3 separate regions of the Homo sapiens genome follow, and all the other regions are linked to region 3. Evidence: fine-mapped expression QTL. A gene starts in region 3. Each other region holds a variant in brackets. All regions are shown on one strand. Distances are between the middles of the regions.

What was found. PIP is the estimated chance that this variant, and not a neighbour inherited with it, causes the effect. A credible set is the group of variants that fine-mapping cannot tell apart.
Region 1: its variant is the best candidate, but not a certain one, in a credible set for the expression of ZNF7 in whole blood (TOPMed, PIP 0.71).
Region 2: its variant is the best candidate, but not a certain one, in a credible set for the expression of ZNF7 in cerebellar hemisphere (GTEx, PIP 0.76).

What each region holds. Positions count from the first base shown.
Region 1 is chr8:144,891,672-144,898,260 of GRCh38, forward strand. All of the region lies in intron 1 of ZNF250 (zinc finger protein 250), which reads right to left. Among named protein-coding and RNA genes, the nearest start is that of ZNF250, 6.5 kb to the right of the region's middle. The variant A/C (reference allele first, on the strand shown) is at 2,726.
Region 2 is chr8:144,903,990-144,910,578 of GRCh38, forward strand. No RefSeq gene overlaps it. Among named protein-coding and RNA genes, the nearest start is that of ZNF250, 5.8 kb to the left of the region's middle. The variant C/T (reference allele first, on the strand shown) is at 3,521.
Region 3 is chr8:144,823,693-144,830,281 of GRCh38, forward strand. It overlaps ZNF7 (zinc finger protein 7), which reads left to right and starts at 3,868. Exons shown (of 5, transcript NM_003416.4): 1 at 3,868-3,917; 2 at 5,351-5,398; 3 at 5,786-5,912. The coding sequence starts at 5,396. It overlaps LOC100130027 (a long non-coding RNA gene), which reads right to left and starts at 3,348. Exons shown (of 5, transcript NR_147501.1): 1 at 1,621-3,348. RefSeq lists a silencer at 3,059-4,188 and enhancers at 3,520-4,045, 4,046-4,571, 4,572-5,097.

The DNA.
Region 1 (6,589 bases), 68 kb after region 3:
GGGAAACCCCGTCTCTACTAAAAACACAAAATTAGCCGGGTGTGGTGGTGCACGCCTGTAGTCCCAGCTACTCAGGAGGCTGAGGCAAGAGAATTGCTTGAACTCAGGAGGTGGAGGATGCGATGAGCCGAGATCATGCCATTGCACTCCAGCCTGGGCAACCAAGAGCAAAACTCCATCTCAAAACAAAAACAAAAACAAAAATCAGCTGGGTGTGGTGGCGGGTGCCTGTAATCCCAACTACTCAGGAGGCTAAGGCAGGAGAATCACTTGAACCCAGGATGTGGAGGTTGCAGTGAGCTGAGATCATCTCAGCTGAGACTCTGTCTCAAAACAAAACAAAAAAAACACACATCAGATACATGTATATATTTGCACAGACAACTTTCAGGAAGATACACAATAAACTAACTGCCTGCCTCTGAAGAACAGGACAGGGAAACACAGTTGGAGAGAGACTGACTTTCAACCCTCCCCCGTGCTGCTGTTCTCCAAAAATGCCCATTCCCTCCAAATGTGTGTGTGAGCACACTTCTGTGTTAGCGCAATGCAACTCTAATTAGAATTCCAACAGAAGTCTTTTAAAGGAATGACTACAACTACTTGAGAATTCATAAGAAGAATGGATGCTAGAGAATAGCCAAGAATTTAACTGGAAAGAACAGAGGGTGGGGACTGCCTTGCCAGGAATCAGAGCCAAGGGTGGGTAGGAAGCCGCTGCAATTAAACCAACAAGTTGTTGACAGAGGAACAGATGAAGCCAGACAGGTATGTGGGAAATTGGAAGATAACAAAAATGTTACATTTTAGTTCAGCAGGAAATCAGTGGTTCCTTTAGTAACTTGTGTGTACCCAGATGGGATACATCAATAACCAATTTTTTTGTTTGTTTTTTTTTTTGAGACAGAGTTTCACTCTTGTTGCCCAGGCTGGAATGCAACGGCGAGATCTCGGCTCACCGCAACCTCCACCTCCTGGGTTCAAGTGATTCTCCTGTCTCAGCCTCCCAAGTAGCTGGGATTACAGGCATGCGCCACCATGCCCAGCTAATTTTTTTTGTATTTTTAGTAGGGACAGGGTTTCTCCATGTTGGTCAGGCTGGTCTTGAACTCCCGACCTCAGGTGATCCGCCCGCCTTGGCCTCCCAAAGTGCTGGGATTACAGGCGTGAGCCACCGTGTCCAGCCACCAATTTTTTTTTTTTTTTGAGACGAAGTCTTGCTCTGTCACCCAGGCTGGGATGCAATGGGGTGATCTTGGCTCACCGCAACCCCTGCCTCCCAGGTTCAAGCAATTCTCCTGCCTCAGCCTCCCGAGTAGCTGGGATTACAAGCACCCACCAGCACGCTCGGCTAATTTTTTAAATATTTTTAGTAGAGATGGGTTTTCACCATCTTGGTCAGGCTGGTCTCGAACTCCCGACCTCAGGTGATCCACCCGCCTTGGCCTCCCAAAGTGCTGGGATTACAGGCATGAGCCACCACGCCCAGCCCAACAATAACCAATTTTGGATTAAGATGAAGACCAAGTGTGAGCATTAACAGTGGCCTCATGTGCTCCTGGTCCCCCTGTCTGACATCTGCCTACCCTCAAGGGCAGAAGTGCCTTCTCTCCTGCCACACCCTGACCCTTTCCATGGGTCACCCACCAGCGCACAGATCTGCCATTTCTTTATTTTGAAACAGAATCTCGCTCTGTCACCCAGGCTGGAGTGCAGTGGCATGATCTAGGCTCACTGCAACCTCCGTCTCCCAGGCTCAAGCGATCCTCCTACCTTAGCCTCCTGAGTAGCTGGGACTACAGACACCTGCCTCCATGCCCGGCTAATTTTTGTACTTTTTGTAGGTACGGGGTTTCACCATGTTGCCCAGGCTGGTCTCGAACCCCTGAGCTCAAGTGATATGCCCCTCTTGGCCTCCTAGAGTGCTGGAATTACAGGCTTGAGTCACTGCGCCTAGCCCTGCATGCGAATTTGACCTTGGGTGAATGCACAGCTCTGGTCCCCTGGAAACCTGGCAGAGGTGGATGGTCATTCTCTCTACGGACCAATCACACCTGGGCTGTGACTCAATGATGAACAACCACAGGAAGTACATTCAGGGCCTCCCTAGCAGGTCTTGCAGCCAGTTCTCTTGACACAGGAGGTGCTGGCTTGTATGACCACGAGGCTTTCGACTAGGCTAACTCCTCCTCCTACCTGCATCTTGTGTTTATGCACCTCAGTACTCCCTGGATGGCTGCTGGATGATGCTGGCCAGCTTTTCCGAGAAGCTGCTGCTAGGCATGGTTGTCCTGTGAGTCTGAAAAGTCAGTTGAGCCCAGTAGCTCTTTTGGTACACTTGAGCTCGTGATCCCCCTTCCCTCTGACTCAACCTTTCAATATGGGTGTCTCATAGCATCTCAGACATTTAACATCCCAAACCAAGCACCCCCTCTACCATCATTTCTACCCCCAGCTTGGTCTGTGAGCCTGTGCATCAGCCTCCTTCCTTCTTCACTCCCACACTTCTATTCACCTTCCAAGCACATCCAGAACCTGACCATGTTGCCCATCTCGCCCTCCCTGCCCCATGACAACCACCCCTAGATGTTCGGCAGCTCCCATCTGGGCAGACAGACTCCCAGCACCGTCTGTCTGCCCAGCCCCTCCATCTACCTTCCTGTGAGAACACAGTGACTGTCCTCTGCTCCAAGGTCCTCCCAGGACCCCACTGGCTCCTATGGGC[A/C]TGCCCCAAACTTTGTGATTTTCCTCAGAGCCCTGCAGCCCTTTATCCCTTGGCCTGTGCTCCCCATCCAACTCTTAGAGACCTCTGCCCCACCCACCGCAGCAGCCCTGGCCTCACCCAGCTCTCATCCTATCCCTTTCTCCTGCACCAGCAGACCAAGAAGCAGGCCCAACAGAGTAATCAGTGGTCGACCTTTTTTTTTTTTTTTTAATTACTTCTAGGCTAATGATTACAAATTGCCAGGCAATGTACTTTTTTAAACTTTTAATTAATTTCTTAGAGACGGGGTCTCACTTTGTAGTCCAGGCTGGAGTACAGTGGCTCAATCACAGCTCAATGCAGCCTCCAACTCCTGGGCTCAGGTGATCCTCCCACTTCAGCATCCCAAGTAGCTAGGAATACAGGTTGCACCACCATGCCTGGATAATTTCTTAATTTTTTTTTTTTGGTAGAGACGAGGTCTTGCTGTGTTGCCCAGACTGGTCTTGAACTCCTAGGCTCAAGGGATCCTCCCTCCTTGGCCTCCGAAAGTGTCAAGATTACAGGCCTGAGAACACCACACCCGGCCTGTTTGTTGAATAAATGAATGAAGAGGAATGAGCTCACACTTTATGCCATCTGTAATAGCCAAGTACGGAGTCAACACTTTAAACTGGCAGGCATGGGAAAGTGGAGTTTCTCATACTCTTAAGAAGGCGACCTAGCAGTATTTAGGCAAATCAGACTGGCCCTTGGATAGTGGGTACCTGATAAGAATGGATGTGGGTGAGGGTGCAGATTCAAGGATGTTGCTGAGGCAAATGCTACGTTGGTCCTTCCACATACAAGTTACACACCTGCTAAAGAGAAAGATGTATGTTGTGTCAGGTCACCAGATGGGTGAGTGAAAATGCAGCATGGGGCCAGCATGCAGGGGAAAATCTCATTTTGTAAACTATGACCCCGAGCCCATGAAGGGTATGTGTGTCACAAGGACCTGGGACTGGTTCACCTGCCTCACTTGGGCCAGCTGCATTGAGGCCCCACCTATAAATCCAGATGACACACTCCTCTGAAGGCCTGGAGATCATGTGGTTGGTGAGAGGAGAGCGCTAAGAACAGGCTTGGCTCAGAGGAGGATGCTGCTGGATAAGGTGTTATTATCTATTTGATTAACACACAGAGGAAATACTCCAAAGGACAATACCAGGCTGTCAACAAGTGTGTGGCAAGGAGAAGTGAAAGGGAAAGACTGCCACCTGGGGTGAGTCTTAGAAAAGCATCACACAAAATGCAGTATCAGGTCTCTATTGAAAGATGACCATCACATATTGCTAATTAAAAAAAAAATCGGCCAGGCGCAGTGGCTCATACCTGTAATCCCAGCACTTTGGGAGGCCGAGGCGGGCGGATCAAAAGGTCAGGAGTTCGAGACCAGCCTGGCCAACATAGTGAAACCCCGTCTCTACTAAAAATACAAAAAGTTAGTCAGGCATGGTGGCAGGCACCTGTAATCCCAGCTACTCAGGAGGCTGAGGCAAGAAAATAGCTTGAACCTGGGAGACAGAGGTTGCAGTGAGCCAAGATTGTGCCACTGCACTCCAGCCTGCATAACAGAGCAAGACTCTGTCTCAAAAAAAAAAAAAAAAAAAAAATCCTATCACAAAGTCTGATTGTATTCTGGTAATAAATGAACAAAAATGGCTGGGCATGGTGACTCACACCTATAATCCCAGTACTTTGGGAGGCCAAGGTGGGAGAATTGCTTGAGTTCAGGAGTTCAAGAACACCCTGGACAATATAGTGAGACCCCGTCTCTATAAAAAAATTTAAAAAATTAGCTGGTTTGTAGACCTAGGTACTCTGGAGGCTGAGATGGGAAGATTGCTTGAGCCCAGGAGGTCAAGGCTGCAGTAAGCTGTAACTGCACCACTACACTCCACCCTGGGCAACAGAATGAATCCCTGTCTCAAAATAAATAAATAAATAAATAAAAATTAAAAAAAAATATGAACAAAATACATTTTAAAAGTGGTATTAACTAGTTTAAATTTTTTCCTTACTTACACTATGGCAGATAAAGGTTTCAGTTTCCTGGAACGAGCCTGTAACAGGATACCAGGCCAGGCAAACACCATGGACCTCAACCTAAACCTTGCATACTCAAGACAGGAAAATGTAAGAGCTATCGGGGGTGCCAGAAACTGGCTTTTAACAACACACTCCATCCACACTTCACGGGATTCTGACGTCCAACTCCAAGCTTTGCTCCATGAGAACACAGTTCAGGCAGGGAAGGAGGATGATGTGGACAGTTTTAAAAAATTAAGACAGGCTAATGACGAGTCCTCTATAGATGCCAGGCTCCAGGGCCAGGGGCTGGGACAGGCTGGAGATCACCGCCACAGAATACTGGAAGTGGAGTTTGAGGAGCCCCCTCTTGAGGCCATGCCAACAGCTAACAAATGGGCAATATAAAGAACACCCACTCAGGGCACTGGCTGAGCAATGATCCCTCCCACCCACTGGTTACAAAGGTGGCAGCATAAGGAGCTAATTTTTCAAACTCAGGAATTTCAATCTTGAAAATTTCCCTAAGGAATAATCCAAAACAAAAACAATAGATCAACGTTATTAGCAGCAACTGGCTTTCCAGTTTTCTTTAGGTGATCAAAAGCCACATCGCAGTGAGACATTCCTATCACTCTTTTTGGAATTCCTGACTGTCTTGATGTGACAAAGCAGTGTGCCTGTCATTCCAGAGGACCCTGCACATGGTCACACACTGGGACAGGCACATTTGGAGTCTCCTGATCTGGGATGAGCTTCCAGGATCTCCTCCAGGGCCACTGCCTTCTCCTGCTCCTCATCATCCTCACTCCCTGGACTTTCTGCTAACAAGCACTGCTCCCTCTTCATCACCAAGGAGCCCCTACCCGCTAGGGTGAAAGCACTTTCAAGAGAGGCAGCTTCTGAGCCACTTGTGAGCACAAGGCGAAACACTGCTAAACTTGACCTAATCTAAACTAACCCTAACTAACCTAAACTAACCCTAACCTGCAACCTTTCCAGAATTAATGATCAGAAATATGTATCCAAATTGATAGCTTTCTGGTCGGGCACAGTGGCTCATGCCTGTAATCCCAGCACTTTGGGAGGCCAAGGTGGGTGGATCACCTGAGGTCAGGTGCTGAGACCAGCTCGGTCGGGGAGACCCTAACCCAGCGGCGCTAGAGGAATTAAAGACACACACACAGAAATATAGAGGTGTGAAGTGGGAAATCAGGGGTCTCACAGCCTTCAGAGCTGAGAGCCCTGAACAGAGATTTACCCACGTATTTATTAACAGCAAGCCAGTCATTAGCATTGTTTCTATAGATATTAATTTAACTAAAAGTATCCCTTATGGGAAACGAAGGGATGGGCCGAATTAAAGGAATAGGTTGGGCTAGTTAACTGTAGCAGGAGCATGTCCTTAAGGCACAGATCGCTCATGCTATTGTTTGTGGCTTAAGAATGCCTTTAAGGGGTTTTCCACCCTGGGCCGGCCAGGTGTTCCTTGCCCTCATTCCGGTAAACCCACAACCACAACCTTCCAGCGTGGGCATTATGGCCATCATGAACATTTCACGGTGCTACAGAGATTTTGTTTATGGCCGGTTTTGGGGCCAGTTTATAGCCAGATTTTGGGGGGGCCTGATCCCAACAGTCAGGAGTTCAAGACCAGCCTGGGTGACATGGTGAAACCCCGTCTCTTCTAAAAATACAAAAATTAGCTGGGTGTGGTGGCACGTGCCTGTAATTCCAGCTCCTCCCAAGGCTGAGGCATGAGAATTGCTTGAACCTGGGAGGTGGAGTTTGCAGTGAGCCAAGATCGCGCCATTG
Region 2 (6,589 bases), 80 kb after region 3:
CAATGGTGTAAGGCACAGTCCCTGCAACAAATCGTATATGATATATATAATATATATACACACAATTTACGTATCGTTCATGAGTATACAGTTTACTTTTTTTATTTTTTATCCTTTTTTTGAGACCGAGTTTCGTTGTCGCCCAGGCTGGAGTGCAATGGCATGATCTTGGCTCACCGCAACCTCTGCCTCCTGGGTTCAAGCCATTCTCCTACCTCAGCCTCCTGAGTAGCTGGGATTACAGGCGCCTGCCATCATGCCCAGCTAATTTTTGTATTTTTAGTAGAGATGGGGTTTCGCCATGTTTTGACACCAGTTGTTTTGGAAAAACTCAAACTGTTTTTTTTTCTGCTCTCACACTGCCACAAGTGGGATTCAAACCCACACCTACCTTAGGAGACCAGAAAATTGTTTCAGAAAAACTCTCAAACCCTATTTTTCCTCTGCTCTCATACTAACAACACAGAAGACTTATGTAGCCCCAAAATATATGGGGATTTCTCCTCATCAGCAAGCCATCAATTCTACTGGGTGTCCTCCAGTTCAGCTCCTTCACTGTCTACCTGGAGATAGTGCCGGATCCCACAGGATGAGGGCTCAGTTCCCGACTCCCCAATCCCCGACAGGAGTCACAGCCTGGGCCTCCAGAACTGATTGACTTCCTTCAAGTCAGTTCACGACTCCCCAGTCCCCGACGTGAGTCATAGCCCGGGCCTCCAGAACTGATTGACTTCCTTCAAGTTGGGGTTTCCATGACTCCCTCTTTGGGTTTGATTTGCTAGAACAGCTCACGGAACTCAGGGAAACCCTTACTTATGTTTGCCAGTTTATAATGAAGGATATTACAGAGGATACAAATAAAGAGATGTGTAGGGCAAGGCATGGGGAGAGGGGTGCAGAGCCTCTGTGCCCTTGCAGGGCACACAGCCCTCCAGGAACTTCCATGTGTTCGGCTCTCCAGAAGCTCTACAAACCCAGTCCTCTTGGGTTTTCATGGAAGCTTCATGACATCGATATTTTTTCCACCAGGCTATGAGGTGGGACCCTCTCTGGAATGATGGTCTTATGACCCACAATCAGAGAGGTAGGGGAAGATTAGGGTCCTGCGGGCAGGAGGTCAGAGAGATTTTGTTCTCTGAAGCCTAATGCATCCAATGTTATAACAAACGAGTGTAACAAGGGCTATGGCAGTTATGAGCCAGAAACCATACAAACGTGTGTGTGTGTGTGTGTGTGTGTGTGTGTGTGTGTATGGAAAGAGAGAGAGAGACCAGAAGTGCTATGCTGGAAACTATTCTTTTGAGGTTGTGTTCACATTTTTTTTAACCAATTTAACATATTATGTTACTATCTCACTTAAGATTGGCATTGACTGTACAACAGAAAGCTGATTACAGTGGCTGAACCAAATAGGTGGTTTTTTTTATGAGTCAATTTTTCTAGGAATACGGAGCCCATCCAAGGCCACACAATGCCACCAGGCCTCTAGGCTCCCCCTTTATTTTCCATTGGCCATCTTAATAAGCAGCTTTCATTTTTTTTTTTTTTTTTTGCCTCATGATTGCAAGAAGACTGCTTCATCACTAGAATCACATCCAGATTCCAGGCAGAAAGAGAAAAAACAAAAGACAAAATCAAATGTATGCTCAGCCAACCCCATGTCTTTCAGAACTGCACCCTGTGACTTTTACTTATGTATTTTTGGTCTAAAGTGTGTTACAAGACCAATTCTAGCTCCAAGGGTGATTAGGAAAATGTGTTTTTTCAGCTGGGTAAAGTGCCATGTTTAACATTAAAAATTGCCAAAAATCAGGCTGGGCACGGTGGCTCATGCCTGTAATCCCAGCACTTTGGGAGGCTGAGGTGGGCGGATCACGAGGTCAGGAGATCGAGACCATCCTGGCTAACACGGTGAAACCCAATCTCTACTAAAAAAAAAATACAAAAAATTAGCCAGGCGTGGTGGCAGGCACCTGTAGTCCCAGCTACTTGGGAGGCTGAGGCAGGAGAACGGTGTGAACCCAGGAGGCGGATCTTGCAGTGAGCCAAGATCGCGCCACTGCACTGCAGCCTGGGTGACAGAGCGAGACTCCGTCTCAAAAAAAAAAAATTGCCAAAAATCCCTGATGGTGTTTTTGTGATGCAATGTGAGAACTTACAGGTAATCAATTTGACACCAGATAAGTGATAAAGAGTAAACTTAAAAATCAATTTAAAATTCATATCCTCAGATCTGATTTCATTAACTATCATTCAGTTTATCCTCAACCTAATTAATATGTACAACTGAGGATATTTAGAAATACTCTGTTCAGAGAAGAGAAATAAACATTTCTTATGGGGAAATATACTATAAGGCTGATAATAAATTGATTTTTAAAAATATATTTGACTGCTATGTCCTTACTGCTGTATTTTTGTTGCTTTATTGAGGTATAAATTGCACAGACAATAAATTGAACATACTTTTAGTTTGATGAAAATGTTGACCTAAGTAGATGCCTGTGAAACTATCCCCACAATTAAGATACTAAACAGGTCCATCAGCCCCAAACGCCCCCATCCCTGGGTCTGCTTTCTGTCACTCTAACTCAGTTTGTAGTTTGTATGATATTATATAATCATAGAAGATACATTATTTTGGAGTATGGGTGGGTCCGGCCTCTTTCACTCAGCATAGTTATTTCGAGATTTAGCCATTTGCTGCATATATCAATAGTTTGTTCCTTTAAATTGTTGGGCAATACTCCATTGTATGTATGTACGATAACTTTTTAATCCATTCACCAGATATTGGACATGGGTTGTTTCCATTTTTTAGCTACAGACATTTGTATGTAAGTTTTTGTGTGTATCTATGCTTCCTTTTTTCTCTTTTTCTTCTTTCCTTTTTCTTTCTTTCTTTTTCCCTCCCTCCCTCTCTCTTTTTTTTCTCTCTGTCTTCTTTGAGATGGACTCTCACTCTGTTGTCCAGGCAGGAGTGCAGTGGCGTGATCCAGGCTCATTGCAACATCTGCCTCCTGGGTTCAAGCAATTCTTCTGCCTTAGCCAACTGAGTAGCTGGGATTACAGGCAGGCACCACCACGCCTGGCTAATTTTTGTAGTTTCAGTAGAGATGGGGTTTCACCATGTTGGCCAGGCTGGTCTCGAACTCCTGACCTCAAGTGATCCACCTGCCTCTTCCCCACAAAGTGCTGGGATTACAGGTGTGAGCCACTGCGCCTGGCCTGCTTTTGTTTTAAAGAAACTGTCAACCTCTTTCTAAAGTGTTTTTCACCACTTGACCCCCCCTCGAGCAGTATGTGGCAGCTCCAGTTGCTCCATATACTTGCCTACCCTTGGTATTGTCAATTTGTACAAAATTAGCCATGCTGGTGGAAGTACAGTGGCATCTTATTGTGTTTTTCTTTTTTTGAGATGGGGTCTCACTCTGCCACCCAGGCTGGAGTGCCTTGGCGTGATCTCGGCTCACTGCAACCTCTGCCTCCCGGGTTCAAGTGATTCTCCTGCCTCACCCCC[C/T]AACTAACTGGGATTACAGGTGCGCACCACCACGCCCGGCTAAGTTTTGTATTTTCAGTAGAGACAGGGTTTTGCCGTGTTGTCCAGGCTGGTGTCGGGCTCCTGACTTCAAGTGATCCATCTGTCTTGGCCTCCCAAAGTTCTGGGATTACAGGCATGAACCACTGTGCCCAGCCTCATTGTGGTTTTTATTTGCATTTCTTTAATGCTTAATGTTGCTGAGGGTCTTTTCATGTGCTTGTTTGCTGTGTACATATATTCTTTGGTGAAGCAGCTGTTTACATTTTTTGCCCATTTTAAATAGTCATTTGTCTTATTATGAGTTCTTTATAGGATTGGATACTGGTCCTATGTTGCAAATATATGTTTTGCAAATACTTTCTCACAGTTGTACCTTTTCATTTCATTTCATTTTGAGGAGCAAAAGTTTTAAATTTTGATAAAGGAATTAATGGATTTCTTTCCTTCAAAGTTCATACTTTTTGTTTCTTATTTAGTAAATTCTTGGGTGGGCACAGTGGCTCACACCTGTCATCTCAGCCCTTTGTGAGGCCAAGGTGGGCAGATCGCTTAAGCCCAGGAGTTCAAGACCAGCCTGAGGAACGTGGCCACAAAAAATACAAAAGTTAGCTGGGCATAGTGGCACATACGGGTAGTCCCAGCTATTTGGGAGGTTGAGGTGGGAGTGAACCCAGGAAGTCAAGGTTGCAGTGAGCCATGATCACACCACTGCACTCCAGTCTGAGTGACAGAATGAGACCCTGTCTCAAAAAATAATAATAGCCTGGGTGCGGTGGCCAATGCCTGTTATCCCAGCACTTTGGGAGGCCAAGGCGGAAAGATCACTTGAGGTCAAGAGTTCAAGACCAGCCTGGCCAACATGGCGAAACCCCATCTCTACTAAAAACACAAAAAGTAGCTGGGCATGGTGGTGGATACCTGTAATCTCAGCTACTCGGGAGGCTGAGGCAGGAGAACCCCTTGAACCTGGAGGTGGAGGCTGCTTGTTCACTGATGTAGCCCCGGCACTTAGTGTTTAGCACACAAGCACTCAATAAAACAAAAACTAATAATAATAAAATTAATTAATTCTTGCCAAGTCAAGATCTGTAAGGTTTTCTCCTATTTTTTTTTCCTTTTTTTCTTTTTTCTTTCTTTCTTTTTTTTTTATTTTAGACAGAGTCTTGCACTGTTGCCCAGGCTGGAGTGCAACGGCGCGATCTTGGCTTACTGCAACCTGTGCCTCCTGGGTTCAAGCCATTCTCCTGCCTCAGCCTCTGAGTAGCTGGGACTACAGGCGCGTGCCACCACACCTGGCTAATTTTTAGTAGAGATGGGGTTTCACCATGTTGGTCAGGCTGGCCTTCAACTCCTGACCTTGTGATCTACCTGCCTCGGCCTCCCAAAGTGCTGGGATTACAGGCGTGAACCACGGTGCCCGAACTCCTATGTTTTCTTCTTCTAAATTTTATACATTTAGTTGATCATACATTTTGAGTCGATTTTTATACATTGTATGAGGTAAGGACTGGAGTTCATTCGTTGGTATATTGTTACTCAGTAGTTTCAACATTTGTTGAAAATGATACCCTAATCTTTTTTAGACAGGGTTTTGCTCTGTTGTCCAGGCTGGAGTGCAGTGGTGCCATCATGGCTCACTGTATCCTTAACCTCCTGGACTCAAGCAATCTTCCTGCCTCAGCCTCCAAAGTTGTTGGGATCACAGGAGTGTGCCACCGCACCAGGCTAATTAAAAAAAAATTTTGTGTGGAGACAGGGTTTCCCTATGTGGCCCAGGCTGGTCTTGAACTCCTAGGCTCAAGTGGTCCTGCTACTTTGGCCTCCCAAAGTGCTGGGATTACAGGTAGGAACCACCCCGGCCTGACAAGTCTAATCTTAAAATAATCTTTTGTATATTATTTTATATGTGCTAGCTGTAATATGTTATAAATATTTTTCTCAGTTTGTCATTTTTTTACTTTATGTTGGTTTTGGTCATGTAAAAAAATTTCATGTGGTTAAATTTATCGATATTTTCTCTTTTGTTTCTTGATTTTTAGTAGTAGTAAAAATTTCCCTCTCAGTTTCTAGAATAATTTATTCATGTTTTCACCTAGTACTTGTTTGGTTTTGTTTCTTTACATTTACCTCTCTGTTCCATTTGCAGTTTATTCTGCTACATGGTGTGGAGAATGGATCTAATTTTATCTTCCAAATGGCTAGCTGGTTATTCCAATACCCACATATGACATTTATCCCTAACCCATCATTTGCTTATATCAAATTTCCATAGGGGAGCAGTCTCCACAGTTGATGTTCTGACATTTGGAACTGCTCAGACCTTAGCCCATGGGCAGAGAAAACTCTGCACACAGAAGCCACATGGGGTCTCTGGGAGCCACGGTGCTCCCCACCCCTCCCCACACACAACAGGGGCTGGTGGTGACTGTGGTTCTTGACCCTCAAGCCTTAGGCGAGTGGTCCAGCTGAAATTTGCCCAGTAAAGGCCCTATTTTCCCCCCAGGCCCTGGAGCTTCTTTTGGAGGGTTCTGTTGGACTCAACAATGACACACAAAGCAGTACAGCTCAGAGCACATGCTGGCCAGCCAGCAGAGAGCTGGTGAATGAATATGCTGAGGCAATGGAAGCCATACCACTGGGTGGGGTGGTCATCACCCAGACATCTGCTGACAGTGCCGACTGTGTGGTTACCTGCAGACTCAGATGACCCACCCACAATTTTGAGACTGATGATGTCACACAAAAACATACACCCCAAGGGGGGTGTGAAAAGGTTTATTTTATACATAATTGAGGGCAGCAGCGAGGCTTCCCAGGCAGGTCCAAAATGGCTTGAGACAGCAAGGAAAGGAGGCTGGACTGGGTTTTTATTGTGGTTGGGGGTGGGACTGATGGGAGGTTCCCACATACAGGCAGGGGCTTGTGTGGTTCGAATCTTCCAGTGTCACCAGAGGGAGCACCCAGGCTTTCTTACCAGTTTCCCCAGATGTGAGCACAAAGGAAAGAGGGAGGGTGAGACTTAAACACTGACAATTATCAAACATCAAA
Region 3 (6,589 bases):
TAGGAAGCGGCTGCCAAGATCTCACCCCCAAAGATGCCCAGCTGGCACAAGCCTCCAGTCTCTCTTGATTTGGCTGTTAGAGAAAAGCAGATTCTGCTTGTGGTTGTCATCATGCCATCCCAAACAGATCATCACTACAGGGAGGCACGATCTCTGTACTCTGATGGGTGCGGCATGGGTGAGGACTGACTGTCCAGAGGGCCCAGGGTGCCTTCCAGGAACACCTACAGCACCGCGACCTGATGCTCACCTCACCCCATCCCACAGCAGCCCAGTGCCCTCCTGGCAGTGCCCACTCCTCCCCAGCTCACCCGTCAGGCACTGTTCCTCCCTAGGTGTTCTCTCCACTGCATAGAGGCTTGGACCCGACTTCACGAAGACATTTTGAAACCATGCACCAGAGAGTGTGTGCATAGAATGAAGAACCTTTTGTTTGCAGGGCTCCGTCCCTGCTCTCCAGGGTCACCCAAGCATTTGGGGCCTTGATCCTGGAGAGGCTGCTCCCTCCAGGGCTAGCTAATTCCCAGAGACGGCAAACACTCCCCTTCCAGTGCACCTTTTTTTTTTTTTTTTGAGACGGAGTCTCGCTCTGTCACCCAGGCTGGAGTGCAGTGGCGTGATCTGGGCTCACTGTAGCCTCTGCCTCCTGCGTGCAGGCGATTCTCCCACCTCAGCCTCCTGAATACCTGGGACTACATGCGTGCACCACCACACCCTGCTAATTTTTTTGTATTTTAATAGAGACGAGGTTTCACCATGTTGGCCAGGCTGGTCTCACCTCAGGTGATCTGCCCTCCTCGGCCTCCAAAGTGCTGGGATTACAAGCGTGAGCCACTGTGCCCAGCCCCAGTGCACCTTTGAGACACAAACCAACCAATCCAGAGTCCACAACTATCTCCCTCCCTTATCACACGGTCACTCACCAAGCCAATATTTCCCCTGCCCTAAGTAACCCGAGGGCCAGGTACCGGACAAGAAGGGGCCACCCCTACAGCCCTGAGCCTGCCACAATTGTTCAAATAGTCCAATCGTGAGCTCACTCTGCATACCTACCCTGCCTGCCCTCTCCTTCCAGAGAAAATAAAGGCTCCGGCCAAACTCAGTCCTCTCCCCCTTTCTGCCTCCTGGCCATCCCTGGTCCTTCTCATGTCGCCCTGTGTGCCCTGCCCAGTTTCCAGGGACCCACGACTATAACTTCTTCCTTCACAACAGTCATTCTCACGTGTGCATGCCTTACCACACCTGTTAAAACAAATCCACGGGTCCGGGCGCGGTGGCTCACGCTTGTAATCCCAGCAATTTGGGCGACCGAGGTGGGCAGATCTCCTGAGGTCAGGAGTTCGAGACCAGCCTGGCTAACATGGTGAAACCCCGTTTCTACTAAAAATACAAAAAATTAGCCAGGCGTGGTGGCAGGTGCCTGTAATCTCAGCTACTCGGGAGGCCGAGGCAGGAGAATCGCTTGAACCCGGGAGCAGAGGTTGCAGTGAGCTGAGACTGTCATTGCACTCCAGCCTGGGCAACAAAAGTGAAACTCTGCCTTAAAAAACAAACAAACAAACAAAAAACAAATCCAGGATACATTTGAACTCACCTTGAGATGTGGGTGTCTGCACTCACCTTGAGATGTGGGTGTCTGCAGATGGCAAGGGACCTGTGGAGGGGCTCTGTGGATTGGAAGCACCATTGCTCTGGGCTGTCCACTCGGATACGGAGAGTGCTGTTGGAAATGCAGCACCTTGAAAGTGTCTTTGTAGTTGAGATTTTTTCCTGGAAACATTTACAGCTTGGAACTGTTCTATCTGGCCAAATATGAGGAGGCTAGAGTTGCCCCAAAAGTGGCAGCAAGGGAGTTGCCTCAAAAGACTTCCCCAAACAGTCCCGCGATGGAATTGGTTGGGATTCCAAGGAAAGAAGCTCTAAACGCCAGGGTGATCAGTCCAGAGCATTTCTTCCGGAAATTTTCACATGGAGCTTCAGCTTTCTTGGGATCGATGATGAGGCAAGGGATGCTCCACCCAGGTACATTTGCAGCAAGGGACTCTGGCTATGGAGCTTAGATGAGAGTTTAAGGGATTGGACTCAGGGCAGGGCCAGTTTCTACGTGTTTAGCAATAGGGTTGATTGTGTTTTCAAGCAACCTAAACAGCTTTATCAGGGAATGTGCCCGGCCCCATTGAACTGGGTTCAAGGCTGCAGGGAACACGCAATGGCCAGGTCCCAGAGCAATCAAAGGACTCTGTGTTTCTCAATCAGTAGAGAAAGAAAAGGGGGAACTGGAAGACCCTGTGAATCCCAATCTCAGCTAGGGATGAGCAATCCAGGCTGGCCCAGAGCATAAGCACCGTGACCATGTGAGGGCCTGAGTGTGCCTGGCTTTGGAGGGTCTGCTTGCTCAGTGGCCTCTAGACTCAGCCGGGCAGTGGATGCAGTGGATGGAGGAAGCCCCCTCGCCCCAGACAGGACCTCAGGGCCTCAGAGCCCTGGCATCTGCACCCTGGACACAAGGAAGGTGCCTATGAGGTGGATGCTCTAGCCAGGCTTTCTCCCCCTCCTGCTCCTGTGTTACCCTGGTGTGCCCCCCTCACCTGCAGCAGGCCAGGTTGGGGCATAGGGTTGCCGGCCCCTACCAGCCCTGGGGGTCTGGAGGGCGGCTGGGGAAGCAGACCCCCTGTCCTTCCCTATCCTTCGCGACATGCTCCCTGAGCAGCTGCAGTCCACTTAGATGACCAGAGAGGATGTGGGGCTGAGGGAGCCGAACTCGGGGCAGCAGGGGCGGGGGTGGGAGTGCCGGGATCATCCGCACCGGGAGAGGCGAGGCCGGCGTCTGTTTTTCACCTGGGCCTCCCTGGGGGGCTGGGGGCTGCCTGACTCTTCCCTCCTTTGGTTTGCGCAAGTTTTCCCGCGCGGGTTCGGATCAACACGCCGGGGGAGCCCGGCTTACGTCCCTCCTGGACCCCCGCCCCGTTCTTCCCGTGGGGAGGGGCGCGTCAGGCGGACCTGGCACCCTCCGGCTGCTGGGCTTCGCCGGGAGCCACGCGGGGAGGTCCAGGCAGTCGGGACGCAGGCAGCGTCCTCGCCGAGGCTGCGAGTCCGTGGCCGTCCGGGGGAGGCGCGCAGGCTCTGCCGGACGCAGAAGGAACCCGAAGGAGGCGGGGTGGAGGGCGGTGCGGGGCCGGGGAGGGGCGAGGCGAGTGGCGAGTGGACGCCGGGCCCGGCCTCGGGCAACTCCGAGGGGCGCCCTTCCTCGGGGTCCCGGAGGCTCTGCGACCCCGCGGCCGCTCCAGCCGCTCACTGGGGACAAGGCCCGAGCCAGGCGTCTCCGCGAGGCGGGGTCCATAGCGCGCCCAGCAGGCGCCTCCTGTCGCAGGGACGCGGGGGAGCGGCGCCTGAACAGCCTCGGTGGGAACCAGCGCCCGAAGCTGGTGATCCGGGGTGCGCAGGGCCCAACCGGGCGATCCCCTGGATCTCCGCCAGCCTCGCCCCGACTCCGCTCCTCCCACCCGCCAGCGAGTCCGCAACTCCCGGCCCCGGCCCGCGTCCCCAGCTCCAGGCCCCGGCCCCGCCCCGCCCCTGCTCAGGCACCGCCCACTCCGGGCTCTGGGCCCTCCTCTCCCTCGCGGCTCCGCCCCCTGCCCGCCTCTGACTGTACCCCGCCCCCAGGCGCCAGCCCCGCCTATCTGGGCTTCTGGTCCCGCCCAGGTTCTTGTCCCTCGGGCCCCAGCCTCGCCCCTCCTCGGCTCTGACTCCACCCCTTCTCCGGAGCCTGGGAGGCGGGGCTGAGAACCACAGAGATGGCCGGGCCTCCGAGCGGCCCAGGGCGGCCGGAAGTTTGCGGGGCGGGGCGGACGCGGGTGGCCAAGGCCCGTTTCCGGCGGCGTCGCGCGTTTGCGAGCCTCGGGTGGTCCTCAGGGAGGGTGAGTCGGCGCGGCGGGCGCGGACTCGGGTTGCCCTCGGTCCGAGTGATCCCTGGTCGCTTCCTTAGCCCTCCCGCCTTCGGCATTGGGGTCCCCGCGTCCCCCGGGCCTCCAGGCGGGAAAGCGCGGGGGCTTTGCGGGGCCTTGAGCGCCTGGTGTGGGAGGTGGTCGAGCCCAGCCACCCTCCCCCGCGGCGGCGCGAGGTGGGCTTCGTTTGGCCGAGTCTCGCAGCTCCCCGCAGACCCCGCTCGTGGCGGCCACGGTGTCCGGGGCCTGAGTAAGGCGAGCTCCAGCTGCGGCCTTTTCTTCAGGCCTGGGTCTACTCCCGGGGCCCTGACTCCTCCTGCGAAATCACCTCCTTCTAGAGCCTTTTCTCTTTCTATTTATTGCCCCGGAAGGCCTAGGATAAGTGACAGTGGAGGAAGGAACGGTGCCTTGGGTGGGGTAGGCTGTTTGTCTTCTCTAAATTCTGGTTGCTATTCCGGGCATTCCTACTGTCAGGAGCCAGGTGGGGGGATCAGCCTACCTGTGCCGGTGACCTGGGGCTTCCACCCACAAACCACTTTCTGGGCCAGAAGCTGCCATACGAAGACTCTTTTTCCCATTCCGACCTCCCGGGGGAATGCCTGGGCAGGTAGAGGGTCTGGGGTCATTGGCTTAATTGAGGTGAACGATTTATATCAGATTACATCCCTGTGCCTGGTTCCATCCTGGCGACAGGTGAGCTGGAGACTGGAATTTATGTACTTGAGGGCAGGGGTTTCCATGTCCACTCTTGTCTTCCCTACAGTTTGTCATTTTTGCTCCTGCCTTCTCCAACCTCCAGTCGCTCACTGCCTTCCCCAACCTCCAGTCGCTCACTGCCTTCCCTTGCTGCCGGGAATTTACCCACACTGGTTCATCCAACCCCATTTCTTCTTGCTTCAGGCCCTTTCACATGCTATTCCTGCTGCCTGGAGTGCTCTCTCCACCTCCATTACCTTGGCCGAGGTCCCTGGGGAAGTGACCCATTACACTGAACGTTCTAGTCTAAGTGGCTTTCATAGTTCCCTGTACTTGAGCGCTGTCGTGGTTGCAGTGTGCTTATTTGTGTGGTTATTTAACTCTTTCCTCCGCCAGACTGCTTCGTGAAGGCAGGGTCCTCGTGTCCACTACTGTATCCCCATTACTCAGTGCCTGGCACGTGGCATCCACTTCTTACGGCTTTGTGGAGTGAGTCACACATGCCACACACACATACACTCTAAAGAGGAACAAGAGTTCAGTGGGCCTCCTTCACTCAAGTGCCATGGCTGCTTCAGCCCAGCCCCATGTCCCTGCTAGAGAAATCTGGGGCTGGAGGTAAAGGAGCAGAGAGCACAGTACCCCCTTGATTAGCCTGGAAGTTGGGCTTCTGGCACCTTGACCTCTAATCCTTTCATAATTGCCAACAGGTCTCTCGGCCAGAACACGTGGATGCCCACCCACCACTGAGCCTCATGGTAGGAAGCTTGACTGCCTCCTTCCCCTCGCATGTCCTGTGAAGGCCCACCTCCTGCTCTGCCCACTGGCCCTGGGCCCAGACCCTACCTTGGCCCTTGCTGGGCTTAGGAAGGCCCCCTTGCCCCCAACCCCAAGGTAGTGAGCAAACCCCTGCCCAAACCAGGGCCTAATTGAGGCTCTTGAGGGGGGAGGGTTGTATGACCACCATGGACTGGGTTCCTTCCTCCTCCCCGAGACTGCCCCTCCCCAGAATATTAGAGGCAGAGGAGTCCTGGTGAGCGTCTCGCCCAACCCCATGGGGCAGCTGCCTGAGACATGTCATGAGGCAGCGCCAGAAGGGGGCTGGCACCCAGGGATTCCTGGGGTGCTGGTGTGTGTCCTTTCAGGAGGTGGTAACATTTGGCGATGTGGCTGTGCACTTCTCTCGGGAGGAGTGGCAGTGTCTGGACCCTGGCCAGAGGGCCCTCTACAGGGAAGTGATGCTGGAGAACCACAGCAGTGTGGCTGGACTAGGTGAGGCTGCACCTTGGGGCCCCTTCCCCTGCATCATCAGTCAGCACCCACCCAGCCAGGCCTCCATCAGAGGCTGGGGTATGCAGGCCAAACGCTCAGACCCTTGTGGGCTCCACAGGGGGCTTGGACTCATGAGTGGTGTGCCAGGCTGGTTCCTAGCTTTGCCCATGTCATGGGGTTCAGCCCCCAGGGAGTGGGTGGGATTCTGGGAGTTAGTAAAGCCTCTTTTTTTCCTAAGCTGTTAAATTGTGAGAAATAGAATCCAAACTTGAAATAGCTTAGACAAGAAAAGAGAAATTATTGGGTGGAGAAATCCAAGGAAAAGGTTGTGCAACGAGCAAGAGGTGGCAGCGACGCCCACACGGCTGCTTTGCAGATGCCGTCATCCCCTTGCCCCTCCTGTCCTGCCGTTAGTCTCCTCTCTGAACTCCACCACCGCCACAGGCAGCCACTGCGGTGCTCTTTATGTCCATGCCTGTGTCCTCACAAGCTGTATACTGTCGTTGGATTGCAACTTGGTGAGGGGGGGTGCGTCTTAACTTGGGCCTTGCTGGGCCTCTTGCCTGTGACTAAGCCCTCTGCTGCATCACACGCCCGAGAGAGTGCCTGGGCTGGGGGATCAGGAGTGGAACTGACGCGGGCATCGTTGGTTGGCCAGGAGCTTCTTGGGGTGTTGG